3 separate regions of the Homo sapiens genome follow, and all the other regions are linked to region 1. Evidence: fine-mapped expression QTL. A gene starts in region 1. Each other region holds a variant in brackets. All regions are shown on one strand. Distances are from middle to middle. Region 1 holds the start of WDR86-AS1 (WDR86 antisense RNA 1). Region 2 holds the start of CRYGN (crystallin gamma N). Region 3 overlaps CRYGN (crystallin gamma N).

Region 1 (8,070 bases):
TTATTAAACTCTCCTGGTAGAACCCAGTTTCGAGGGTGCTGGGACCCTGAGGCAGGTGACATCTGGGCCCAGAAGCACCAACAGCGTGGCTGGAATGGACACTGACGTGGCCACCAGAGACTTGTAGCAAATCTGCAAGCCCCCACTTTGAACCAAGACCTACGCAGCTTGGCTTTCTGGACTTCTCCGGTGGGAGCGGTCAGTTGCCCCCAAGCTGTGTGAGGCTGCTGTGGCTCTTGTCACCAGCGTGCCGCAGGCCTCCTTCAGCCCAGTCTTCTGGGCCACTGCTCTCCCGCCAGGCTTCACAGGGAGTCTCCTATGCCACCGGCTCCCAGCAAATGGGAATGTGGGGTTGTACCCAGGAAATTAACAACAATCCCCGCCCCCTCATGTTAGAAGACGAGGAAGCGTGTGGGACAGCCACAGTGGGCTGCCACCTTCAGGCTGAGTCCCCTACTCAACAGGAACAGGATAGGATAGGTACTACCATTTTGGAAAATGTCACTCATCTCATTGAACCAATAAAGTGCCCCCAAATAAGGAGATATTCAATGAATAAACCTGAAAAAGAGGAGGTCAGGGATAAGCAAGTGGCAAGTAATTCTTCTCTTTGCAGAGTAATTGCAATGAAGCCTTTTTCACTGTGAGCTCACCAACCGCATTTGAAAGGCAATTCCGTGTATGAACAAGTGAATGCACCCACAGGGAGGGGCTCCCCACACGCCGGTTCTGCAGCCCACTCTCCCTGGGGCCTCCGGGAGCAGCACCTCACCCACCAACCCCGCACGCCACAGGGAACGGCCTTCACTCTTCCTCTCCCTCTCACCCTTTGGCCCAAACTTTCCTAAGCTCTGCGAGACACCCAGGAAAGCCTGCGGTCCCTGATTGCCCCTGCTGCCATGAACAGAGCCAGAGGTCTCTAGAGGAAAAGCGTACGTAGGAGTCGCCAGCCCCAGCCACTCTGCTCGAGAAATCCAGGACCGGCCAACCACAGGCTCTTGTGGGCCCAGAGCTGTGCAAGGGCCAGGACGGAACCAAAGTGGAAAGAGATCTAGATTTAGAGTTAGGATGCTTCTAGGGATGGGGCCACCACAGACCAGCCATGTGGTCTGGACACAACTTCCCCCACAGTGGTAAGAGAAGCACCGTACAGTCTTCAGAAACCCTCTCTGCCATGGACCAGCTGCGGGACCCTGGACAAGTCCTGCCACCGCACCACGCCTCGAGGGATGTTGGCGACAGCACCCACCCCATTATCGATGGTATCTAGAAAACAACAAGAATGCCGTGTATGCTGCTCATGAGTCTGCACCTCCCCACTCTCCTCTGTGAACTGGTGTCAATCCCACCCACCTCAGAGTTGTGAGGATTCATTACACAATAAAAAAGCACAAAGATGTGTTATTTATAAAATATAGGGCACTAAACAAATGTTAAGACATTTTAATAATATTTCACTGATAGAAAAAAAAAATCCTGCAGGAGAAAGGAACTGGCAACACCTTGCTTTCTTTGGGGATCCACACAAAAGGACTGTCACACACTCACAATGACTCTTTTGCAAGTTGAGCGTATCAGTAGAATCTCAGGATAAAGAAAGATGACCTCTGTCCCCGTCCTTGAAAATTCCTGAAAATACCAACCCATATAACAGCAAAAACAATCCTAGCAAAATGGGCCACAGTTCTTTCATTCCAGTGTCCTGCTTGAGCGGGGATAGCCCTGCCCTCAATTAGGGCAGAAGGTTGGGCACCCTCCCTGGGAAGTGAGTGTCAGTACCTCAAGGGGACAAGCAGCCGTGAGGGTCACCAAAGTGGGTGTGAAGGAAGGAGGCACAGGTGCCAGACACAGAGCTGGGCAGGAGGGTGGGCCCTGGAGGCTTGGTGAGGCTCCAGAGCTGCCGTGGGGGCAAAGCCAAGTGCCCACCAGGCTACCGGCAGCCTGGCAAAGCCTGGGGCCTCACTGGGGAGAAACCCCACCTAATTGTGGGCTAAGCTGGGCTCCCACAACCCGTCCCCAGCCCAGGGGCTCCCGGGGCCAGCTGTGCATAAGACCCACCCAAAAGCTTGTTAGAAATGCCAATTCTAGGCCGGGTGCAGTGGCTCACACTTGTAATCTCAGCACTTCGGGAGGCCAAGGCGGGTGGATCACCTGAGGTCGGGAGTTCAAGACCAGCCTGGCCAACATGATGAAGCCCCACGTCTAATAAAAATACAAAAAAATTAGCTGGGCGTGGTGGCGAGCACCTGTAATCCCAGCTATTCAGGAGGCCAAGGCAGGAGAATCGCTTGAACCCGGGAGGCGGAGGTTGCAGTGAGCCAAGATCGTGCCACTGCACTCCAGCCTGGGCAACAAGAGCGAAACTCCATCTCAAAAAACAACAACAAGAAGAAATGCCAGTTCTACAGCCCTATTCATGGAGGACTGCATCACTGGAGCCCAGGCCTGGGGATCTGCATTTCTGAAACACCACCCACCCCTCTACCCCCAAGACAGTCTTATGTTTGGGAGCAATACCAACTGGACTTAACATTTCTAAAAGACCTCATATTTTCCATTCCTGGTTGAATGCCTATAAGTGTGTGTGGCTGTTTGGGGGGGATGTGTGTTAGTTTGTGGCCACCTCTCCATTATCCACACCAACTCCCAAGTAACCGGTAATCCAAAAGTCATCCCTGTTGGGTTTGAAATATCTGCCCTAACTATGTAATATTTTTTTCTTTTCTTTTCTTTTTTTTTTTTTTTTAGACAGAGTCTGGCTCTGTCACCCAGGCTGGAGTGCAGTGGCACGATCTTGGCTCACTGCAACCTCTGCCTCCTGGGTTCAAGTGATTCTCCTGCCTCAGCCTCCCGAGTAGTTGGAATTACAGGCGCCCGCCACCACGCCCAGCTAATTTTTTGTATTTTTATTAGACACAGGGTTTCATCATGTTGGCCAGGCTGGTCTCAAACTCCTGACCTCTGGTGATCCACCCACCTTGGCCTCCCAAAGTGTTGGGATTACAAGTGTGAGCCACCGAGCCTGGTCAACTGTTCTTATTTAAAACCAGCAGTATCAGGATTAGCCAATATTGGGGCTAATATCCTACCTAAGTTGGAAGGCCTGGGCGAGGCCACAGAGAGTTCACTGATGATGGTGGAAAAGCCCGCGGTGATAAAGAACTACCCACAGCAGAAAGCCTCGCGGCTCATCCAGGGGACTACGTGTGCTACCTGGGCAGTAGGAGGGCCAGAGCTGAAAGGGACCTCACAGTGCATGGGACAGGCCCAGGGGAAGGTGCACCCGAGGCACACTGACCTCCTGAGTGAGTACAGGGCACAAATAGAAACCAACAGGCATGCAGGCAGGGTTTACAGCAATGAGAGGGCTCAGACTGCCATCTACCCCTCACTGGCTGTGCGACCTGGGCGAATTACTTAACTCCCAGCCTGTTTCCACGTCTGTATGTGGGGTAACATAGTGTGACGACGGCACACTTCTCCGCACCGCTGGCCCTTAACAAGCGTCTACTGTTGCTGTGAGAGTCGTCAACAGGAAATGCCAGCAGAAGAGCACAATTGGCCACAAAGAGGCCACAAGGCACCTAGAGACAAGGGAAGGTTTGCTTAGAAGGAGTATAGGTGCAACTTTTTGTTTGTTAACATTGTTGTCAAGGGAGATTTCCTGCCGCTGGTTGACAAATGATCTTCGCCTTTGTAGCGGACGCCCCTCGACCCACCCACCCGATCCCGGCCGCACCCTGCTCTGCACCCGCACCCCACCCCCAGACCTCACCCTGCCCTGCCGTGCGCTCAACAGCCAGATGCTGGGCCCAGACAAGCGCTCTTCCGCTAGTGTGCCGGGATGAGCGGGGGCTGGACTTCTAGAAAGGGGTCTGCGGGCGCAGGAGCTGGGGTCCGCGGTCTGGGGCCGGTGAGCTGCGGCGAAGAGGTCAGGGAGGGAGTGGGAGGGTCTACCTTGCAGGAGCGCGCAGCACTGGCCGTCCGCGGTGCTCCAGAGCCGGGCCGTGCCGTCCTCGCTGCCCGTCAGCAGGCGCTGCCCGTCGGGGCTCAGGCTCAGCCAGTTGATGCCCCCGCGGTGGTCGGCGCAGACCCTCAGGGCCGACCCGCCGCCCCCCATCCCGCTGGCAGGGCGGGGAACAAGAAGGAGCTGCGCCCCGCTAGGGAGGGGCGCCCCGGGGTCCGCGCGGCGGCTCCGTACGACTGCGGCCCGCGGCCATCGCGGGGAACGGGGAGCCCGACTCCTGCGGAGGCACGCGGCGAGGGGAGGGTGAAGGACCCTAGCTCCCCGCTGCCTCCAGCCTCTGGGCCCGCGAACCCAGGGCGCTGCGGGGGGCGGCCCACTCGGGACCTCCGCCCTGGGTAGAGTCCTGGGCGCGCGGGCAGAGAGAACCCCCTTCCCAGCACCGCTCGGAGGATCCACACCCCACCGGGCGAACAAGGCAGCTGCGTCTCTGGTGCACAAGGAGCCCCCCGCCTCCTCTCGCGCCCACGGGGCTGGGGCGGGGAGAGGAACACGGGAAGCCGAGCGCCCCGCGCCCTCCCCGGCCGAGCGCGGAACAATACGGTCCAGCCTGGCTCCTCCTCAGAGACCACCCCTCACCCGATCCCCTCCCACTTCTCGGGCTGCGCCCCAGCCCCCACCCCGCGCGCCTGCAGCCTCCCCCCTTCGTCGCTGTGCGGGTCCGGGGGACGGCTCCACGTGCGACCCTCCTAGCTGCCCGGGCTGCGCCTCTGGGCTCTGGCCTCTGCCACCTCCGCCGCCGCCGCCTGGGTCCCCTGAGCCAAGGGCCGGGACGAGGGAGGGGGAGGCGGACAAAGGGTCGGGGTCGGGGAGAATCGCGCGCCGGGAACTCATTTGGGGCGCAGCTCCACCGACCCCTCGGCTACTCGCCTCCACCAGGCAAGCCAGGTCCTCCCATGCTCTGAGCCCTAAGGACTCTGCCCGAGGGGCTCTCGGGGACTTGGGGGCGGTCCCCCAATGGAGGGTGCGACAGGGAAAGCCCCGAGTCCGCCCTCCCTGGGAAATCACGCGCACACCCAGGATTCTACTTTGGTCTGGCCGGAGTGGGGATGAGGTGCGAGCCGCTGCGGGGTCGGTGGAGCCGGGATGTCAAGTTCACCTTCCAGCCGCCGCGGGCTCCCTCGGCCTGGGGCGCCTCTAATGGACCCCGGGGTCGGCCTGAGCCCTCCCGGAGCGCCCGGCGGCTGGTTTCCATTAGGGCAGTTCCGGCGCCGACTTCGCTGGGGACGGGGAAGGTGACCCCCCTACTCGGATCCCCCAGGTCCTAAAGGTAGCAGGATTTCCAGAACGCTCCAGGGCTCTCTCAGGAGCCTAGGGAGAAGGGCAAGGAAGGGGCGTCTTTGGCGAGCTAGCCCGCAATGGGACGACCAGTACTGCACGCTCTGCTCTATCCAGACTCCAAAAGAAAACCCCATCGTGGGGTGTCCCAGGCCGTTGGGTCGTTTATACCCAGAGTGGCCTAACCAGAGAAATCCGTTCTTTTCCCTCAAAACTTGTAAAGCAGCTGGCGCCTCAGCTTAAGGAGCGTGGCCCTTCCTTAGCAGGTGGTGGAGAGAGGGGCAGTGGAGGAGCGTTAGGACGAGATTTGGGGTCATCCAGCCGGAGAGAGGGAGGCCGAAAGGAGAGACGTTTTCAGGAGGTGGAGGCTTCAGCATTTGGATGCCTGCGAGGCGGGAGAGGCCGGGGAGCCTGTCTTGTGCTGAGAGGCTGGGTAGACTGTTTTGTCCCCTACAGGCTGATCACCAGTTCCTCTTAGGAACCGGTGAACCTCAGGGGGCCCATTGCACATCCAGGTGTGAAACTGCGGTGTGGCCTCCAGGTGAGGACAGACTCGGTATAGTGGGGATCTTGGGCAGGCCCTGCGGCTGCAGCCCTTGGGGAAGGTGAATGTGAGGACCATGGAGGCTGGGAGGGTTTATCCGGAGAAGTGCCAGAGGAAACCCAAACTTTCTGGGCAGAGGGGCCAAGGAGAACCAGGCATCGACTCTTTTGGAAACTAAGAGGGGAGGGGTTTGAAAGCAGTTTGGGAGCTGGGGACAGATCGTAGGTTGGGCGAGCTTGCCTGGTCGTGGGCCAGAGGAAAGAACCACCAGGAGAAAAGCTTAACTTTCAAGGAGGTCACCCAGGATTCCTGAGCAAGGTGGCACCCATGCACTCTGGTTCCTCTCCTCTGCAGCCAACACAAGCCATCAGCCCCATGCTCAGCTCCCAGCAGGCAGAGCGTTCAGAAGCGCCAGCGCCATCATCTTGGGAGCCTGCAGTCCACACACCGCTGACCTTACCTACTTCCTCTTTCCAGGTTGATAGATTTTTTGTTCTTGGCTTCTCCACCTCCCCCACCCCTCCTTCTCCGGTTTGGCACAAAGTGGCCCCCTGGTGGGGATGAGCCAGCCATCTCTGGGGGTTGAGTCTGGACTGTAGAGCTGTGGGTGCAGATGTCCTCAGCCAGCCTGTCTTCCCTTTTCTCTTGCAGGTCGTAGATTACAGACTCTCCTCTGGGAAATTGCCCCCAGATCTAACAGGAGTACAAGAAGCTGGGTAGATTGGAAAACAGCACCGAATTCCCCTGGAACTGAGGTCTCCCCTAATTCCCCTGAAACTGGGGTCTCCCCCAACCTCCACCTTAAGATAGCAAAGCTATAGAGACCCAGGAGTCAGGCTGGGTCCCCAGCAGAACCTGGGCTCCCTTCCCCTTTCACACCTTTAACTCTTCTGGAGCCTCCAAGAGGGCCTGGAGTCCCGTGGTGCCCAGGCCCTCCTGGACCTAATCACTTTATAAATGGAAGGCACCTTGGGAAGGGAACCTGGTAGGGTGTAGGAGGAAATGGTTAAGCTTTAAGAAGCAAGAAATGGGCAGTGTTTAACAAGTGAAGGGTTGGGGGGCGGGTGCATTTTGTGCCAGGGAGTGCTCATTCCCCGTGCCACAGGGACTGCCACAATTTACCCTGCTGGAAAGAGTGACCCTCTGGGGCCTCTCTGAGAAGCATGGTGAAAGCTGGATATTCCTGAGTTGTGTGTGTGTGTGTGTGTGTAGGTGGTGACAGAGGGAGGCACCTTGAGGGGCGCCCACAGGGAACGTCATAGCCAGAGCTTTGTCAGAATTGCTTTTTCCCTTCTGGCACAACCTGCAATGCTGGTGGTGAGGGTGCCTGTGGTCATCATCTTCATAGTTTGGGTACTTACTGTGTGTCAGGTACTGTGCTAAGTGCTAGTATTTTTCAACAGGACGGAAGCCTTCCCAGTCCTGCAGCCACCTGCAGACTCTCACAAGCACGGTGCTCCCGGGAGAAGACCTTGCTACCCCAGGCCCAAGGCAGTCGAGAGAAAACGGGAAGCCCTGAAGGTTTTTCACCCCGGGGGTGAGAGTGTATGATCGAAGATATATTTGAGGGTAATTGTACAGATAGTCCCAACTTAGCATTGTTCAACTTTATGATGGTATGAAAGTGATGACATTCAGTAGAAATTGTACTTCAAGTGCCAATACAATCAGTTTTTCACTTTTGGTGCAGTATTCAATAAATTACATGAGATATTCAACACTTTACTTTAAAATAGGCTTTGTGTAAGATGATTCTGCCCAAATGTAAGGCTGATGCCAGTGCTCTGAGCACATTTAAGGGAAAGCTGGGCTAAGCAATGATGTTCCACAAGTTAGGCATATTAAATGCATTTTTGACTTAGAATATTCTCAACTTGCAATGGGTTTATCAGAACATGACATCGTTAATCACTCAAGGAGCATCTGTACCACTAATGACATAGATGCTGGTTGCAGGAAGGCAGCCAGAGGAGGGCACAGTGTGGAAGAACTCAACTTTTTAAAGACAGAGATCAGCTTTAAATATTGCTAAGAAAGAACTTGGAGAGAGAAGTTGGTGATACCGGAGACAGCAGGCAACAGACAGAGTGAGAGGCCCGAAGAACAAGAGGAGGAGGGAGTCTCTTCTGGGAGCAGAAGGAGTGTCGACTTAAATATTAGGGAGCCAAAGATGAACCTCGCAGAGAACCTGCAAAACCCAGTTGCAGAAATACCTGCCCACACC
Region 2 (8,070 bases), 33 kb after region 1:
TACTGTTCCTCCCCACCCTTAGGAGCTCACAGTGGGGCAGACAAATTTCAGCAGCGATTTGGGGACAGGGGTTTCCCCTTTGTCTAGGTGCCCATTTCAAAATGGGCTGTTTTCAACTTCCACTGCATTTTTAACTCATTTTTTAATTATTAAAACATAAAGCCGATAATAACATTAAAGGAGGTGTTTTCAAAAGAAGAAATTTCACCCACAACCCTCTCATGGTAACCCAGCATATATTTTGCAGAAATTCGGGTTCCTGGGATTGGGCCTCCTTCACTGGAGAGGCTGAATGGGCCGAAGCCGCGTCAGGGCCTGGCTCGGGATTAATGTTCGCAAAAGAGGGCTTATAAGTGCCACCCTGTCTCTCTGTGTTTTGTAGGTCACTCCTTTGGGTAGCAGGCATGTATCAGATCTGGAGCTCCATCACCCTGCTGGGAGTTCAGACATCGTGTCTTATAGCTACGTGGCACTCACAGGTTGTCCTTGTCCCGAAACAAAACAAAGTGAAGCAATAACAACCCGCCAGACTCATTTCCTGCTGTGGAACCTAAAATCTCAACCATTTAGTAACTCTTTGGGTTTCAAGAACTGTGGCCCTAGAAGGGTCCTGCCAGAGTGCAGTGATGTTCCCCATCACTATGGTCGCTTGTGCCTCACCAGTGTCTCCAGTTCGCTCAAAAGAACACGAGAATTGCCCTTCCAGGCCCCTTGGAGTCAGGCGTGGCCACATGCGTTCACCGGAAAGGAGGCAGACACCTTGGCGTTCTGCACCCCAGAGTTACTGGGGCCCTTTGTTACTGAAGCATCACCTGGCCCATGCAGACTGATACAGCAACACAGTCACCCCCAGACACTCTGGAATGTGGCCTTGGAGACCAAAGGCTTCATGGGAGTGGCTAGGCTAGGGGCACTGGAGAGGGCGAGGGAGAGCCAGGTCTCCCGTCCTTCCTGCACCAGGCACGGCTGGTAGAGGGCCCCTGAAACCTTCAGGGAGGTCTGGGCACCAAAGGGATTCGGGGCTCCCTCAAATCTCAACATTTTTCAGAGAACCAGCCCTAAGTGTCCCTGAAGAGACCCTGGGAAGGAAAAGCCATAGAGGCCAGCCTTGGGCAAAGAAGCCGCAGCAGTGGGGCGGAGGGCTGTGGGACAAGCCAAGCCTCCCCCACCCCAAGGAAGCCCCAGGGAGTCTGAACACCCTCCCTGCTCCTGACTGCAGGGCGAGGGGTTGGAATCCCAGAAGGAAGGAGTGGAGATGGAGACCTTCCTATCCATCCACACCAGAGAGGCCCCAGGCCAGTAGCGAGGCCACCCCATTTTATTAAGAAATTAAACCAGCTTCCCTTGGATTTGTCACCATCAACAGTGTGCACCCTCCTGCATCCCCTAGCACAGGGGGCGAAGGCGGAGCCCCACTCGGTTTCCTTGGGGTTGAGGGACGCACTCACCTTCCCCGAGCGCTGCGCCATGGTGCGCCCCGCCCCTTCCGCGGGTCCCCGTTTACACCGGGCAGCGCCCTGCTGGCTCAGCGCCGCCCCGGACAAAAGATTTGCTGGGCCGGCCCCGGAGCGTTAGTGCTGTCGGGCGTGCTAAGCCCGAGGGGCCACCAGGCGGTTGGGACCCGCCGCGGCCACCCTGTGCCACCGCGAGTGCAGCCCGCCCTGCCCGGGGTCTCCCTGTGCTCTCCGCGTTTAGCTCCCGAGCCTCCTTCCTCCCTGAGCCCTCCCGCCCAGCCCGCGGCTGCCCCTGCCCTGCCCTGGAGTGGTGGGGGGAGGAGGGGAGGTGTCTCTCTAGCCCTCCAACCTTTCTTCCCCTGCGCTGCCCCTCAGCCCTCACGCCCATCTCCCTCCCTCCCAAGGCCTGTTCCGAGCTCCCCAGCCCACTCCCCTTTCTCACCTGGCTGCAGGTAGTCTCGCCTTGGTGCCAACTTGTTTGTCTCCACGAGGATGCAACCCAAGCTTCCCCGGACAGACAGACAGCCCTTGACCGCCCCTCCCCTGGCTGCTCTGGTCTGAGCTCCCAGGTCCCCACCTTAGACCTCCGGCTCCAACTCACCCAGCTCCTGATGCACCCCCCCACACCCCACAAAACGCCAGGCCAGGTCAGGCCTCCCTCCTCCCGCTCTCTTCCTGCCTGCCTCCCTCCCTGGCACTCTCCCTCCCTGGGTCCCTCTCTCCTTGAAGATCCTGCCTAGGGTGACCAGGTGACCCGCGCTGCCCTGAGCTGGGGGTACAGTGCTCTGCCCCTTGCCTCTCTGCTGCACCAACTAAGCCACCCTGGACGCCCAGGATCAGTTTACAGCACAAAGCAGCCCCACCGCGGAGGGAGAGTTCCCCAGGGCCCAGAACGAGCACTTGGCAGACAGCAGAGGCTCAGAGATTGTGGAGTGAGCAGAGCGAACATGGAGCCCACAGGATGTGCAGCCCCCACACGGCTGGGGAGATGAGCTGGGAACACAGGACTCATGACTCAGATGGCTGGGGTGGTGGGGGACAGGCTCTGAGATCAAAGGAGAGAGGGGCAGGTGCTCCACAGGGGCTTCTGCTGGAGGGGAGGGAGGAGCTTTGGGGAGGAGTTTGGGCTGCTCTTCCTTCAAACAGTATATTTTTATGACCATTTCACAGATGAGACACTGAGGCCCAGGAAGAGGAGGTTATGTGATTCTTGGGGCAGAGGGGTGACCTTGCCTCTGCTGTGGGAGGTTTTCAAAAGTAGACAGGGTACAAACCAGAACCTGCATGTCACCCTTGAACCCAGGGACGGTCCTCCCTAGGGACGCCCCTCCCTAGGGACGCCGCCCAGCTGCCTCCACTGGCGCCCTTACTTGCCAAGCCACACATTCCAATGTTTCTCTCTGGACCTGGGCCCTGGTGGGGACATAAAATTAAAAACAAAATCTCCAGCCAACCCAGAAAACTTCTCCACGAAGGTAGAAGGAAAAAAAAACAATTTTATTATTGAATAAACTTTAAACTGGAATGCGATCTGCATCACGATCTCTCCCCTAAGAGATCGCAAAGATGGAGAGAGATCTCACTCTTCTGTAGCCAAGCAGACACAACCCACTGCATTCATGTTTTCAGGATAAAATTGCTGATTTTCTTGTATCTCTATGACTGGAGGTGGGTTTTGCAATTTGGAGTCAGGTGACAGCTGAAGTCAGGCTTCT[T/C]AGGAAACGGGGAGGGTGGGGGCACTTACTCCTTGATGTCAAGACTCAAAGAGGCTCCCAGAGGAAACATGACTGAGTTGTTAGACTGGCAAGAGGCTTGTTTAGCCATTAAAAAGATTTACACACATTTGAAAATGACAGAGAAGGAAATTCTGCAAGAAAAGGGAGGAAAGGGAAGCCTCTTCCCTTATTTTCAACAGGGAAAAATAAGCCTTAAAAAAAGGTTTTATTTTTTAGAGCAGCTTTAGGTTCAAGTTGAATTCAGCAAAAGGTACAGCAATTTCCTGTATACCCCCTGCCCCTACACACACACACACACACACACACACACACACACACACACACACAGAGCCTCCTCCACAATCAGCGCCCCCATTAGAGTGGTACATTTGTCACAGCCGATGAACCTATGTTATACATCGGGATACAGGATGAGAAGTTGAGAGAATGCGGCGTAGACTTTGTTAAAATAACACATTTTTAAAGCCTCCCCACATAATGTGGTTGATTTTTCACAGCTTGCTACTCTTTGTCCAGTTGAGTATGTAAGTGTTTGACTCTTAACTTTTTCTTTGGGTCTTCATCTCCTTATAAGGGCTCCCATGCCACATAAAACTTGTATTAAATAAGTTTGTATGCTTTTCTCTTGTTAATCTGTCTTAGGTCAATTTATTTCTCAGGCCCAGCCAGGACCCTAAGAGGATGGAGGTAGAACTTTGCTGCCTCTACAGTGTAATGCCATGGTTCCACCATTAGAGCACCAGGTAGAGTATTCTCACCACCTTAAAAGTCCCCTGTGTGGGCTGGGCACGGCGGCTCACACCTGTAATCCCAGCACTTTGGGAGGCCGGGGCGGGTGGATCACCTAAGGTCAGGAGTTTGAGACCAGCCTGGCCAACAGGGCGAAACCCTGTCTCTACTAAAAATACAAAAACTAGCCAGGCGTGGTGGCAGGCGCCTGTAATCCTAGCTACTCAGGAGGCTGAGGCAGTGAGAATTGCTTGAACCTGGAAGGTGGAGGTTGTAGTGAGCCAAGATTGCGCCACTGCACTCCAGCCTGGACGACAGAGTTAAACTCCGTCTCAAAAAAAAAAAAAAAAAGATAAAAAAAAAAGTCCCCTGGGCTCCATCTGTTTATCCCTCTCTCCCCCTTAACTCCTGGCAACCACTGATCTTTTTACTATCTTCACGGTTTTGCCTTTTTCAGGATGTCATGTATTTGGAATCTTACAGTATGTAGCTACTACGGTTTGAACGTGTCCCCCAAAACACATGTGTTGGAAACTTAATCCCCAATGCAACAATGTTGAAAGATGCGGTCTCATGGGAAGGGTTTAGGTCATGAGGGCTTCACCCTCATTCATGGATTAACGCTGACCATAAAGGGCTACAAGGTCAACCGCTTGCTCTCTCTCACCCTCTCTTTGCCCTTCTCCCATGGGATGATACAGCAAGAAGGCCCTTGAAAGATGCCAGCACCGTGATGTTAGACTTCTCAGCCTCCAGAACTGTGAGCCAGTACATTTGTGTTCATTGTAAATTACCCAGTCTGTGGTATTCTGTTATAGCGGCACAAAACGGACTAAGACAGCAAGTAGCTTTCTCAGATTGGTTTCTTCCACTTAGTAATATGCATTTAAGATTCCCTCATATCTTTTCCTGGCCTAGTCTCTCATTTCTTTTTACTGCTGAATCATGTTCCCTTGTCTGGAAGTACCACAGTTTAGTTATCTATTCATCAATGGAAGGACATTTTGGTTGTGTCCAAGTTTTGGCAATTATGAGGAAAGCTTCTATAAACAACCACGTGTAGATTTTTGTGTGCTCCTTTCACTATACACTAAGGAGTGGGATTGCTGGATCATATGTTACAGGTATGTTTAGTTGTGCAACAAACTGAAAAAAAAATAAAAGCCAGGTGCAGAGGCTTGTACCTGTAATCCCAGCTACTCAGGAGGCTAAGGCAGGAGGATTACTTGAGGCCGGGAGTTCAAGACCAGCTTGGACAACATAGCAAGACCCTGTCTCTAAAAAATTCAAAATCAAATCAAATAAAAAGAAACTGTCAAACTCTCTTTCAAAGTGGCTATATGATTTTTCATTCTGACCATTTGGTGCTATCAAGTTTTGGATTTTAGCCATTCAAATAAGTGTGCAGTGGTGTCTCATTGTTGTTTTAAGAGCTTTTTTTTTTTTTTTTTTTTGAGATGGAGTCTTGCTCTGTCCCCCAGGCAGGAGTGCAGTGATGCGATCTCAGCTCACTGCAATCTCTGCCTCCTAGGTTCAAGCAATTCTCCTGCCTCAGCCTCCCCAGTAGCTGGGACTACAGGTGTGTGCCACCACGCCCAGCTAATTTTTTTTTTTTTTTTTTTTTTTTTTTGGAGATGGAGTCTTGTTCTGTTGCCCAGGCTGGAGTGCAGTGGCGTGATCTCAACTCACTGCAACATCCACCTCCTGGGTTCAAGCGATTCTCCTGCTTCAGCCTCCCGAGTAGCTGGGACTACAGGCACACGCCGCCAAGCCTGGCTAGTTTTTTGTATTTTAGTAGAGATGGGGTTTCACCATGTTGCCCAGGCTGATATCAAACTCCTGAGCTCAGGCAATCCGCCTGCCTTGGCCTCCCAAAGTGCTAGGATTACAGGCGTGAGCCACCGCGCCTGGCCAATTTTTGTATTTTTAGTAGAGATGGGGCTTCACCACGTTGGCCAGGCTGGTCTTGAATGCCTGACCTCAAGTGATCCGCCTGCCTTGGCCTCCCAAAGTGCTGGGATTACAGGTGTGAGCCACTGTGCCCAGCTGAACTTCTTCTTTTTAATTTGTATTTGCCCTCATCACAGCAGGGCCAGAGCACACAGACAACCCAAAAAGGTGATGACAACAGAATCCAAAACAGAAGCAGTGATTTGGGGTGTTTTCTGAGAAATATATATGAAAAAATGCCTAGCTGAAAGCCCCACGCAAAGAATTATTAAAAATGGGTAGATGAATAAGATACCTGCAAATTTCACCTCCATTCCCTATTTCTAATGCAATATCTCAATTCCCACCTGGGATTTTATTATAATTCAGTTACCAGAGGAGGAGTCTGCTAAGATTCATATTATCTATTTGTGGCCAGGTAGAACCCCTCCCCAAAATAGCTACATAATATGCAAATGCCAGTATCACCAAACCTCAACATCAGAGTCATTTTTTTGAGTCATCTTTGGTAGAGCACTGTTAAAATGTACCTTGAGGTAGGTGAGATCTTGAGTCACTATACAGCTGCTAGTTGGGGACAAAATTCTAAGGAAATGGACTGAGAATAAATATCGTGACAGCACAGAAGAAGCAAGGCTAAGAATGCTATCATGGCTTAAAAAATAAAATCTCAATAACATGTAGCCTTAGAACTACCAGTAGCTGCTCAGCATTGGAGAGTTTTACAGCGTGGAGGCTAATGGTTTTAATAATAAATCACCCTGAGCCATCACCCGTTTGCCTGCCTCCCTTCTCTGCCTCTTGTCTCTCCCGTTTTTGGGTAATTTAGAGCACAGAGAAGAATAGGAAATAATATAAGGAACAATAACACCACCATACAAAGTTTGTCAAATCTTAGCATTTTGCCAGGTTTATGTCGGATCAATGTTTTTCCTTAAAATAAGAAATCATTATACATAGAATTGAAGGCTTCCTTCCCCATAAGGATAAGATACTGTCCTGATTTTTGTGTTATGTCTTTGTGTGTTTTCATCTTTTTACTTTCTTTGTATGTATCTGTAAATAATAGAAAATTTTTAGTGTGGCTACATTATATGTAGCCTTCTGCAATTTGGTTTTTTGTTTTAGTGACAAGAGTTTCTGAAATGGTGAATGAACAAAGCTCAGTAGAATTCCTCAGAAAACTAAGTAAAATCTTCCATTTATATATCTAATAAATTGCATACCAGGAAATCTTCAGTATATATTAAAGCCACACAAAAAATACTATGCGTTTCTAGGGGAAATTGTGGGACAGTGTCTCCTTGGATGTGGTGGGATATCCAGCATCCTGGGGCCTGCCCACCCATCCTCCAGCATTCTGACAAACAGAAACACCCTACAAAATTCCAACCACACCCTGGGACCAATACTGCCTCCTTTGAGGCCCATGCCTCTGGGTGAAATTGCTGGGTTGAAGCATGAGTTCACCTTCAAGCCACTAGATGCCACAGAGGTCTTCCAAATTGCCCCACTGACATACAGATGAGATCTACCCTTGGTAGTTCCAAGGCCAGTTGCTCAACATCAGTTCAAATGTATAGCGTTCATTTGAATTGGATCTTTTGTAAATTGCTTGTTCATATGCTTTGCTCATTTTTTTCTGTCTTTCCTTATTGATTATGTGTGTGTGCCTGTGTGTGTGCAAGTGTTTCTTTGTTTTAGAGACAGAGTTTCACTCTGTCACCCAGGCCAGAGTGCAGTGCCACGATCATAGCTCAATGCAGCCCCAAACAACTGGGCTAAGGCATCCTCCTGCTTCAGCCTCCCTTGTAGCTGGGACTAAAGGCACACGCCCACACCCAGCTAGGTTTTTAAAATTTTTTGTAGAGACGGGGTCTCACTATGTTGCCCATGCTGGTCCCGAGTTCCTGGCCTCAAGGGATCCTCCTGCCTTGGCCTCCTAAAGTGCTGGGATTACAGGCATGAGGCACCATGCCTGGCTGTGTGTGTTTTAACTTGCTATCTATTCTTTTGCTGTGTGTGTGTGTGTGAGTCCGCTATCTGTTCCTTTGCTGTTGTCTATTCCTTGTTGTGTGGGTTCATTTTAGACTTTTCCCAGTTTGTTGCTACTCCCAAACCTGCCCTAATTCAATACAAAGTCATGTGAGTGGGCAATGAGGCCCTTCCAGCCCTTCACTCTGGAGCTCTGGGTGTGTGTG
Region 3 (8,070 bases), 21 kb after region 1:
AATAGTGAGGATCGGGACTATTTGTGACACAGCTGTGTTAGTTTTATATCTAATGACCTACATGTGAGTCTCAGTCAAAAAGATTGGGAAGCCGTTGCCACAGGGGATGATGTGTAGAGGGGGTTAGGTGTGGGCTGGGGTCAGACGGCCAGGGGCACTTGGCCTTTTTGGCCATTTATGGCACACATTTGGGCAAGTTACAATCATCCTTTTAGGTCTATTTCTTCCATTGTAAAAGAGAGAAAATAATATACCCACCTTGTTATATGTAAAAAATGGGTTAGCACACAGTTTGTGTCATAGTAATTACCCAAGAAAATGCTGTTGGTATTGGTATCTACTGATAACCAGTCATTGCCAGGTCCCGCTTTCATGACCCAATTAGGTTCACTTAAAAGTAGCAATATACTCATACGTAAACCAGAAATGTTAAAATCTCCTCCCCCACAAAAAGTTGACTTTGGCACAGTGCCGTCCACCGAATCCTGTGGGATGCTATTACAGAAAATCCTAGGAAACCTGTTAATTTCCCCGCAGGAGGGCTAACGTTGAGGGTGCAGCTTGTGAGTCATCGGCATGGGGCCAGCGGACCCGTGGAAGAAACTTCTCTCTGGCCTCGGTCCCAGGAATTGCTGGGCTTCTTCCGGAAAACTAGCTTCCTTTCATCTTTGGGACTGAGCGAATGATGGAGCTGATCCTGTTTCCCTGCTTGCTTTGGCCCAATTAGCAGTTCCTCTCTAGCAGACAGCACAGGACTTGTGGCGGGGAGAATATTATGGATGCCTCGCTTTTTTCTACAACATTTTTCTAAGTCCCCTCTGCCGCAAAGATTTCTTCCCCTACTTTTTGTATCTGCGTTTTTATCACAATGGGCTCCTCCCCTGGCCTTGGGCCCAGTGCCTCCAAGGATAAAGCAACACTTGAGCGTCCCCTCTGTGTGTAGAGGTGACACCACCTCGGCCATCACCAGCCCCATGAAGGGACTTCTACCCAGCAGCCCCACTGGGTGGGAGCGCCCATTTCTACTGCCCGCATGTCTGTCTGTGCAGTTTAGGAATGCCAGGGCTGGTGCTTAGGCTGGGCACACTGTGCGGGGGACATGCCGCCCTGCTCCCTGTGCCTGGCACCTAGAAATGAACACTTTACGGGAATGGAACCCAGGGCACGACCATCTCAGCCCGCGGAACGATCCAGCCCAACTGGTGAGAACTCCCGCTCTTGGTGTTGGGGGCCAGGCAGGGTTCGTGGAGAGGGTCCTTATAACCTGCTCAGCCCCCTAGCCAGAGCAATCCTACACATCGCTGAGCCCTCTTCGGGATGAGAATGCGCACCCTCAGCCCAGCCGTATCCTCTGCCCCTGCCCCTGCCCCTACCCAGGGAGGGCAGTCCTGGGGGTCCCAGGGCAGGCATGGACCAGGACTAGCGTTACCAGCACTGACCTGCCCAGTCCATCCCCCAGCCCCAGCAAGGCTGGGTCCAGGGCTTCCACCCCTCCATGCACAGCCCACGCCAGCTGGGTTCCACAGGATCCTTTTAAATCACAATTCCAAAGCGGGCTGTCCACAGGCAAGGAAGCCAGGAGCCTGTTCACACAAATGCTCGCTGTTCAGGGCAGGCTGCCCAAGTCACCCCTTCCTGGTGTCCCCAGACCTGGGCTACTAAGTCCTGGGGGTCCGGAAGGCAGGGTTAGTCCCAGGTAACCACAGGGACGCTCCAGGGATCCCTGCTGAAGGACAAGGACCTTCTCCTCCTCCTCCTCTTCCTCCTCCTGCATCTCAGCCTCCCCAGCAGCCACAGCCAAGAGCCCTGCCAAGCCGATGGGACCCACGCAATCAATAAGCAGGTGATAGCTTCTTCAGGTAGGGAATGTGGGGCATGGTCGCACAGGAGACCCACAGGGTTCCCTGGGATCCAGCGAGGGCCTTCATTCCCACATTGCCCCCAACAGTCCTGAGCACCTCAGCAACAAGGAGTTAATTTTTTTTGATTATGGCAAAATACACATACAATTTATCATCCTAACCATTTGAAGTGTGTGGTTGAGTGGCATTAAGTACACACACATAGTCGTGCGGCCGTCAGCACCATCTGTCTGTCTCCAGAAGTCTGTCATCTTCACAAACTGAAACTCTGGAGCTAAACCTTTAAAACTGTCTCATTTGACAAGTTTTTTGTTAGTTTGTCTTTTTCTTTCTTCTTTTTTTTTTTTTTTTTTTGACGTCCCTGGGCTCAAACTCATCCAACAGGCTTTGATTGAAGATCTGTTGTGGCTTCCTGGGGGGAACACAGGCAGGACAGCCCTGCTCTTAAGGCACCCAGTGGGGTGAAGAGGTGAGCCAAGAAGCCTCCAGCCAAGAAGGCGGTAGCCTGCCAGGCGCAGGCCACCTCGGGGCATGGGAGGGAGGCCCAGGAAGGGGAAGGGGCCAACAGAGACTTCTTGGACCAGCCCTTGGCTGGTGAGAGGAACTTCTTGGTGCGGGGGATGGGGTGGCTGGGGGGATTCAAAGGGAATGTTTTTCCTGTGGTCAGACTGGGCCTGATAAACAGTGCACGGGGGGCCAGCAGGGCAGGGGGACCTAGGGCTGAGGACATGAGGGGATGGCTCTGTGAAAGTCCCAGCTTTCCAAACCACAGAGGGAGGTAGAAATATGTGAAGCATGTGTGGCTCTTGAGGGCCTCTCACCCTCGGTCCATCGACCCCTGGACGGACTTCAGATAAATTACAAGCTGCCCACAAGCACTTTGGTGGGAATCTTGTTTTTCCTCTTTCAGACAAAAAGCAGATTTGCTGACAGATTAGGGAGCAGGGGGCTGGGGTGAGGGGGAGGTCACCCAGGAGCACAAAGCCCATTCGAGAAGCATTAAATCACCAGTTAATGAGATGCTGCTAAGCCTTGGTGCTGGGGAGGAGAGGAAGAGTTCAGGGGAAGCCTCTGGAACTCATGGGAAGGGCTGCTAGGCCTGGTTTTTCCCGTGACTCCCAAGGACCTGGACTGAACCGGTGGGGCCTGCAGTTCTCATTTCATTCCCCAGGCATTAATTGCCTATGAGGGGGCGGAATGATTACCACTGCTGTACGTCTGAAGACACTGAGACACACAGCAGTGGCTTCTCCAATGTCACATCCTAGTGAGGGATGGAGTGGGAATCAGGTTGGAGTTTGGAGCCAAGTTACCTTCTCTCCTGTGATGCCACTCCCCTGCCTGCTTCCCCACCCCGTCACCTACTGGGTCACCTACTACTAACCAGCCCTCATATGGCACCCGCTCATGGGTCACGCCTTTGGCTTTTACAAGGGTATACAGTTGGTACAGCAGACATGATTGCACTCATTTCACAGAACAGGGTCTGAGGCCTGGAGAGGCTTTGGGTTTGCGCCAAATTCATGACAAAAATATATCTAAATATGCAAATGTGTGGTGCTCTATAGAGGAGTGGTTAGGAACGAAAAGGATCAATCAGCCAGCCAGACCTGGGTTTTAGTCCTGACTGCTGTGTGACCCTGGGCAAGTTGCTTAACCTGTCTGTGGCTGGCTCTCCTCAACTGTACAGTGGTGATAAGCATATCATCTTGGCATTATTGTATATGATAAGTAAAATTACACAGATTCCAGCTACTACAGAGCCTGGCATTAAGTCAGTGCTCCATAAATATTCATCAACATCATCACCATCATCAGCTGTGGGCTGAGGTGCGAGATTGTGGAGGCCTGAGGCCAGCAGGGTGCCAAGGCCCAAGGAGGCTGTGGGGTGGAGGGTTGGACGGCTGTTTCAGAAGAGACAGGGCCCTTGCCATGGGTGGGGAGGGCCTCCCGCTGGCAGATATGACACACAGAAGGCTCCACCTCCCTAACAAACTGGCAGAGAAATGAAAACTGAGGGCATGATTTTAAGTAAACACTCTCCCGGCTCAGAAACGGTGCAGGTGCATTTACATGTCAATCGGTTCCAGGCTCAGAGGTTTGCAGTCAGGAAAGGTGGCTGGGTTGTTGCTGGTTTTGT[G/T]GTGGCCTCTTCCGGTCCTTGATCTGATTGAAGAGAGCTGCTCAGCTGGAAGTCCTCAGCTCCGAAGCTTCTAGGGCTCCATGCTCTGTGGTTTGCAGGTGAAAGGAGGTGGGGCCAGGGCATTAGGGGTACAGAGCAGGCCTTTTGGGGACCCATCTACCACATGGCAGCAGGGAGCCCCTTCCCCTTTCCTGGGCGGAGTGGACGGTTGCCTAGTGGTTTCATGTCTTCATTTGGCCTCGGCTGTCATGGGACAGCCTACGGGGGTCCCACAGCAGTCATGGGGCCCCTCCGTCTTTGCCACCCAGCTCTTGGTGGGGAATTGTCTTGGGTGAATTGGGTGACCCATCGTGACTCTTTTTCCATTGCTCTCTCAGTGAGGGATGGGGAGAGGTTGGAGGACACCCAGGAACGGGACAGCCATCCCCTGGCCCACCACACTCAGGCCACCACACTGTGCGACAGAATCAGCCCCTGAGATTTTGTTTTTCTCTCGGGAACCCTGTGTTCCCTCGCTGAGCTCCCTGCCGTACTCCATCACCCCCTAGGCCTGTCGGGGTGTCTCAGTTCAACTCAGATAGTAACCCAGGGCTCATGGGCTTTCCCTCGGAGTCCTGAGCTGGGCGACCAGCCTAGAGGGGCTGATCCCCAGTCCAAACCCCTCCATCTACTCAGAAAACTGGAGTAAGATGTATGGTGAGGAGGACCCGGGAACTGAGAGGCCAGTCGGGAGCCAGTTGGTTGGGGGGACTCTGGGATCGCAGTCGGGGATTAGAGGCTGGACCAGGAGTCAGATCCACAGCCAGAACTCTGTGGGCACACGGGTGATCCAACCCATGCACCTGGCCCCCCACTGATCCCTCATCCAGCCAGGCCTTGGTCCAGGCACAGGCCATGTGGACATCTTTGGGGTCTCCATGTCCAGGAGCCCCCATGCTCAGGAATCTCGGGTCCAGGGCCCCTGTGTTCTCCTCAGAAGCCCAGAGCACTCCATCTGTTGCCTCCTTCTGGGGTGGGCTATGGTTTCCTCACAGGCAGGCTCCATTCAGGACTCTGCTGGAGGGCTGCCGGCAGCAGGGAGTTACCTGGGCCACCCCCAGGGACCAGAGTTCCCCTCGTGGGACCTTTCCTCTCTCCCCAGTGAGTTGGAAGCATAGGCGTGGGTGGGGAGGGAGTGGGGGGATGCTTTTGGGGACGTGGACCTCTTATGCCCAGGAATCCCACTGCCTGGGCCGAGTATCTCCTTCCAGGACAGACTTCTCCCTCCCCTCTGCCCCTCAAGGGTGGGGTGTCCCCTCTAGATTCAAGCCCACCCCAACAGGAGGACCCAGTGTCCTGGAGAGGGCCCAGGAATGGAGGAATTCTACAGGCGAGCGCTTGGTGCTGCACCAGCTGAAGACGCGAGCCGCCGGTTCTGGGTCTGCCAGCCCTACTGCTCCAGGGGCTATGGCTGCAGCAGACACGCCCCATGCCCCTTTCTCCCCGAAAGCCCCTCCATTCCCACAGAGCCCACCTGTTCAAGCTAAGCCCCCACCCTGACACTCACCACCACTAACTGTTTTCTCTCTCGCAGGAGAGGGGTCTGCCCTGGGTCGAAACCATCCTTCCAGAGGGGTCTCCCTTAGAAACTCCGAGGCCAAGATTAGCCATGAGGATAAAACCCAGAGATCAGACACAGAGACCCTGGGTCAGGCCTTTGGCCACATGGCCTGGCAGCCTCACCTTGCCGAGTCACAGAGAGGCAGAGCCCCAAGCGAGCCTGGGGAGTCCTGAACCGGCCTGGGTTCCGGCCCTGCCCCATCCCCATTGCTTCTCACCACCTCTCCCCACCACTCTCCCCTCCCTGGCCCAGGGGGTCCCTGGGAGTCCGGGAAAGCGCCCTGGATCATCCAGCTCCTCCCAGGGCTGGGATGCCCACTGCCGAGAGAGCACTCAGAAGCCGCCCGTTGGCTTTGAGGACTTTTATCGCCCAAGGTCCCGAGGTCTGGGTGGGACCGCAAGGGGTTGCCCCTGTCCCCAGAGCTGCGCCCGGCCATCCCGGTGGGAGGGCTCGGCTGGAAGAAGTTGACCACCTTGTGGAGCGACTGCACTCGTGCGCTGTGGGCCTCCCAGTCCGAGAAGCTGCGGAAGTCGCCACTCTCCACCACGTACATGCGGCCGTGGTAGTTGGGCTCCTCATACAGGACCCACCTGGAGGCCAGGGGAGTGGGGATCAGGGGCTGCCAGGAAGTCCCCCGGGACTCCGGAGAGAAAAGCCTGCACAGCCTGGCCACCCAGCAACCCCTCCCGGTCGAGCGGCCCCTTCACTCTGGGCTACACGAAGGCACCCACGGTGCCTTCCCCAGTGCCCTGTGGGGTCCATGCTGGGGTGTGACATGTGTGGGGACAGGCCCAGTAATGTCCACATTTTAAAACTGACCAGTCCTGGCCGGGCATGGGGGCTCACGCCTGTAATCTCAGAATTTTGGGAGGCCGAGGCAGGCAGATCTCTTGTAGTCAGGAGTTTGAGAGCAGCCCGGCCAACGTGGTGAAACCCCGTCTCTACTAAAAATACAAAAATTAGCTGGGTGTGGTGGTGGGCACCTGTAATCCCAGCTACTTGGGAGACTGAGGCAAGATAATTGCTTGAACCAGGGAGGCGGAGGTTGCAGTGAGCCGAGATTGCGCCACTGCATTTCAGCCATCCTTGGCAAGGATGCACTCCCGCCATCACTGCACGCCCCACACACTCCTGTTCCCTGATAAGGACCACCTTGCACAGACAGTACCCCCAGCACCTGGTGGGGGGCCTGGCACAGAGGGCACCGTTCATTCAGTGAATGCCAGCAGGTTCCCACATGTGTGCCCAACACTGTGTCAGGTACCAGAGGTGCCATGGTCACACAACACGGTTCCTGCCCCCTCCTGCCCTCACGGGGCCTCCCCTGCAGAGGAAATGGGCTGTGGGGGTGCAGTTGCATGGAGGAGCCTGCAGGGCACAGAGGAGGGTTGGGGAGTCCCAAGCAGGGCCCCTTCCTGTCCTCCTCCCCTTCTGCACACCACTGGGGCAGCCACCAACAACCCAGAGAGCAGAAACAGTCAGGACAAGTCTTTACAGAGCCTGGAGGACCTCGGGCTGGTGGGGGCAGGAGAGAACACAGCTCTTCATCACCCAGGAAGCTGTGGGCCCGGCCCAGAAAAGCAGGAAGGTGCGGTGGGGAGGGAACGGGGGACCAGGAGGAAGGGACTGGAGGTCCAGGATAGTGGCCTTTGCCTGGAAAGGGGCATGTGGTCCAAGGAAGACACCTCAGGACAGCTCGGAGCAGGGGCTGGCCCAACCCTGTCCTTCCCTCACCATCTCTGAGACGAGTGAGGCTTGTCATGCCTGGTGCCTGGCACAGTCTGCTGCCTCAAGGGTTGGGGCCAGGAAGGAAGAGAGAGAGGCAGAGGGTGTGAGCCAGCCTGGAGCACCTGCTGGGGGACTCAGGGCAGGCCTGGTCCAGCCTGGACCCCACCCTCATGGCCCCCGTATCCATGCCCCTCCACACCTACAGCTTTCCAACCCCACACCTGTGCCACAGCTGGGGCCTCAGAGGCACCTCAGAGAGTCAGCTGGTCCTTTCCTACCCTGTGGTGGGCAAGAAATGCCCCAAGCCATGTCCTGGGCCACATGAGGGTTCTCACATGGACACCCCCAAAAGGAGGGGGCGGGGAACCACCCATCCTGCTGTCCCCTGTCCTGGCTGTGGCTACTGGGAGGAGGCAGACAGAGGAAAGGGCAGGGGCCTGTCCTGCCCACATCAGCACCGTGCCCTTCCCCAGGTGAGGGTAGGTGGAGGCAGAACGCCAGTGCATTTCCCTCCGAGAGCCCACCAGGACACGGGTCTGAGGGGATGGGTCATGCCTGGGCTGATGTGGGACCCAGAGGGAAGGAGTCTTGGCAGTGGGAGGTGGTGGAGGGACCCTGCCTTGCCCACTCCCCCGACCCCAGGAAAGGCCTCCTAGCAGTGTCCCCTCCGGATCGAGGGGACCTGGGGGCGTTACCTCCTTGACAAGGGCTTACATTTGTGTAAGAGTAAGAGTCTTAGG

Evidence for each region.
Region 2: its variant is fine-mapped to the expression of WDR86-AS1 in whole blood (TOPMed, PIP above 0.99). The same link has a PIP of 0.9 or more in blood mononuclear cells.
Region 3: its variant is fine-mapped to the expression of WDR86-AS1 in whole blood (TOPMed, PIP above 0.99).

Annotation. Positions count from the first base shown.
Region 1 is chr7:151,405,470-151,413,539 of GRCh38, forward strand. WDR86-AS1 (WDR86 antisense RNA 1) reads left to right here and starts at 3,692. Exons shown (of 6, transcript NR_109857.1): 1 at 3,692-3,913; 2 at 5,759-5,843; 3 at 6,201-6,323; 4 at 6,498-6,601; 5 at 7,250-7,383; 6 at 7,803-7,885. It overlaps WDR86 (WD repeat domain 86), which reads right to left and starts at 4,569. Exons shown (of 6, transcript NM_198285.3): 1 at 3,958-4,569. The coding sequence starts at 4,120. RefSeq lists an enhancer at 5,135-5,767.
Region 2 is chr7:151,438,449-151,446,518 of GRCh38, forward strand. CRYGN (crystallin gamma N) reads right to left here and starts at 1,693. Exons shown (of 4, transcript NM_144727.3): 1 at 1,449-1,693. The coding sequence starts at 1,469. RefSeq lists enhancers at 1-110, 472-972, 973-1,473, 2,185-2,721. The variant T/C (reference allele first, on the strand shown) is at 3,170.
Region 3 is chr7:151,426,094-151,434,163 of GRCh38, forward strand. CRYGN (crystallin gamma N) reads right to left here. Exons shown (of 4, transcript NM_144727.3): 4 at 2,739-4,087. The coding sequence ends at 3,955. LOC124901780 reads right to left here. Exons shown (of 1, transcript XM_047421163.1): 1 at 6,199-8,070. The coding sequence starts at 7,364. The coding sequence ends at 6,459. It overlaps MIR3907 (microRNA 3907), which reads right to left and starts at 7,546; the gene lies at 7,396-7,546. RefSeq lists enhancers at 2,418-2,937, 3,715-3,784, 4,105-4,304, 6,726-6,825, 7,096-7,185. The variant G/T (reference allele first, on the strand shown) is at 4,003.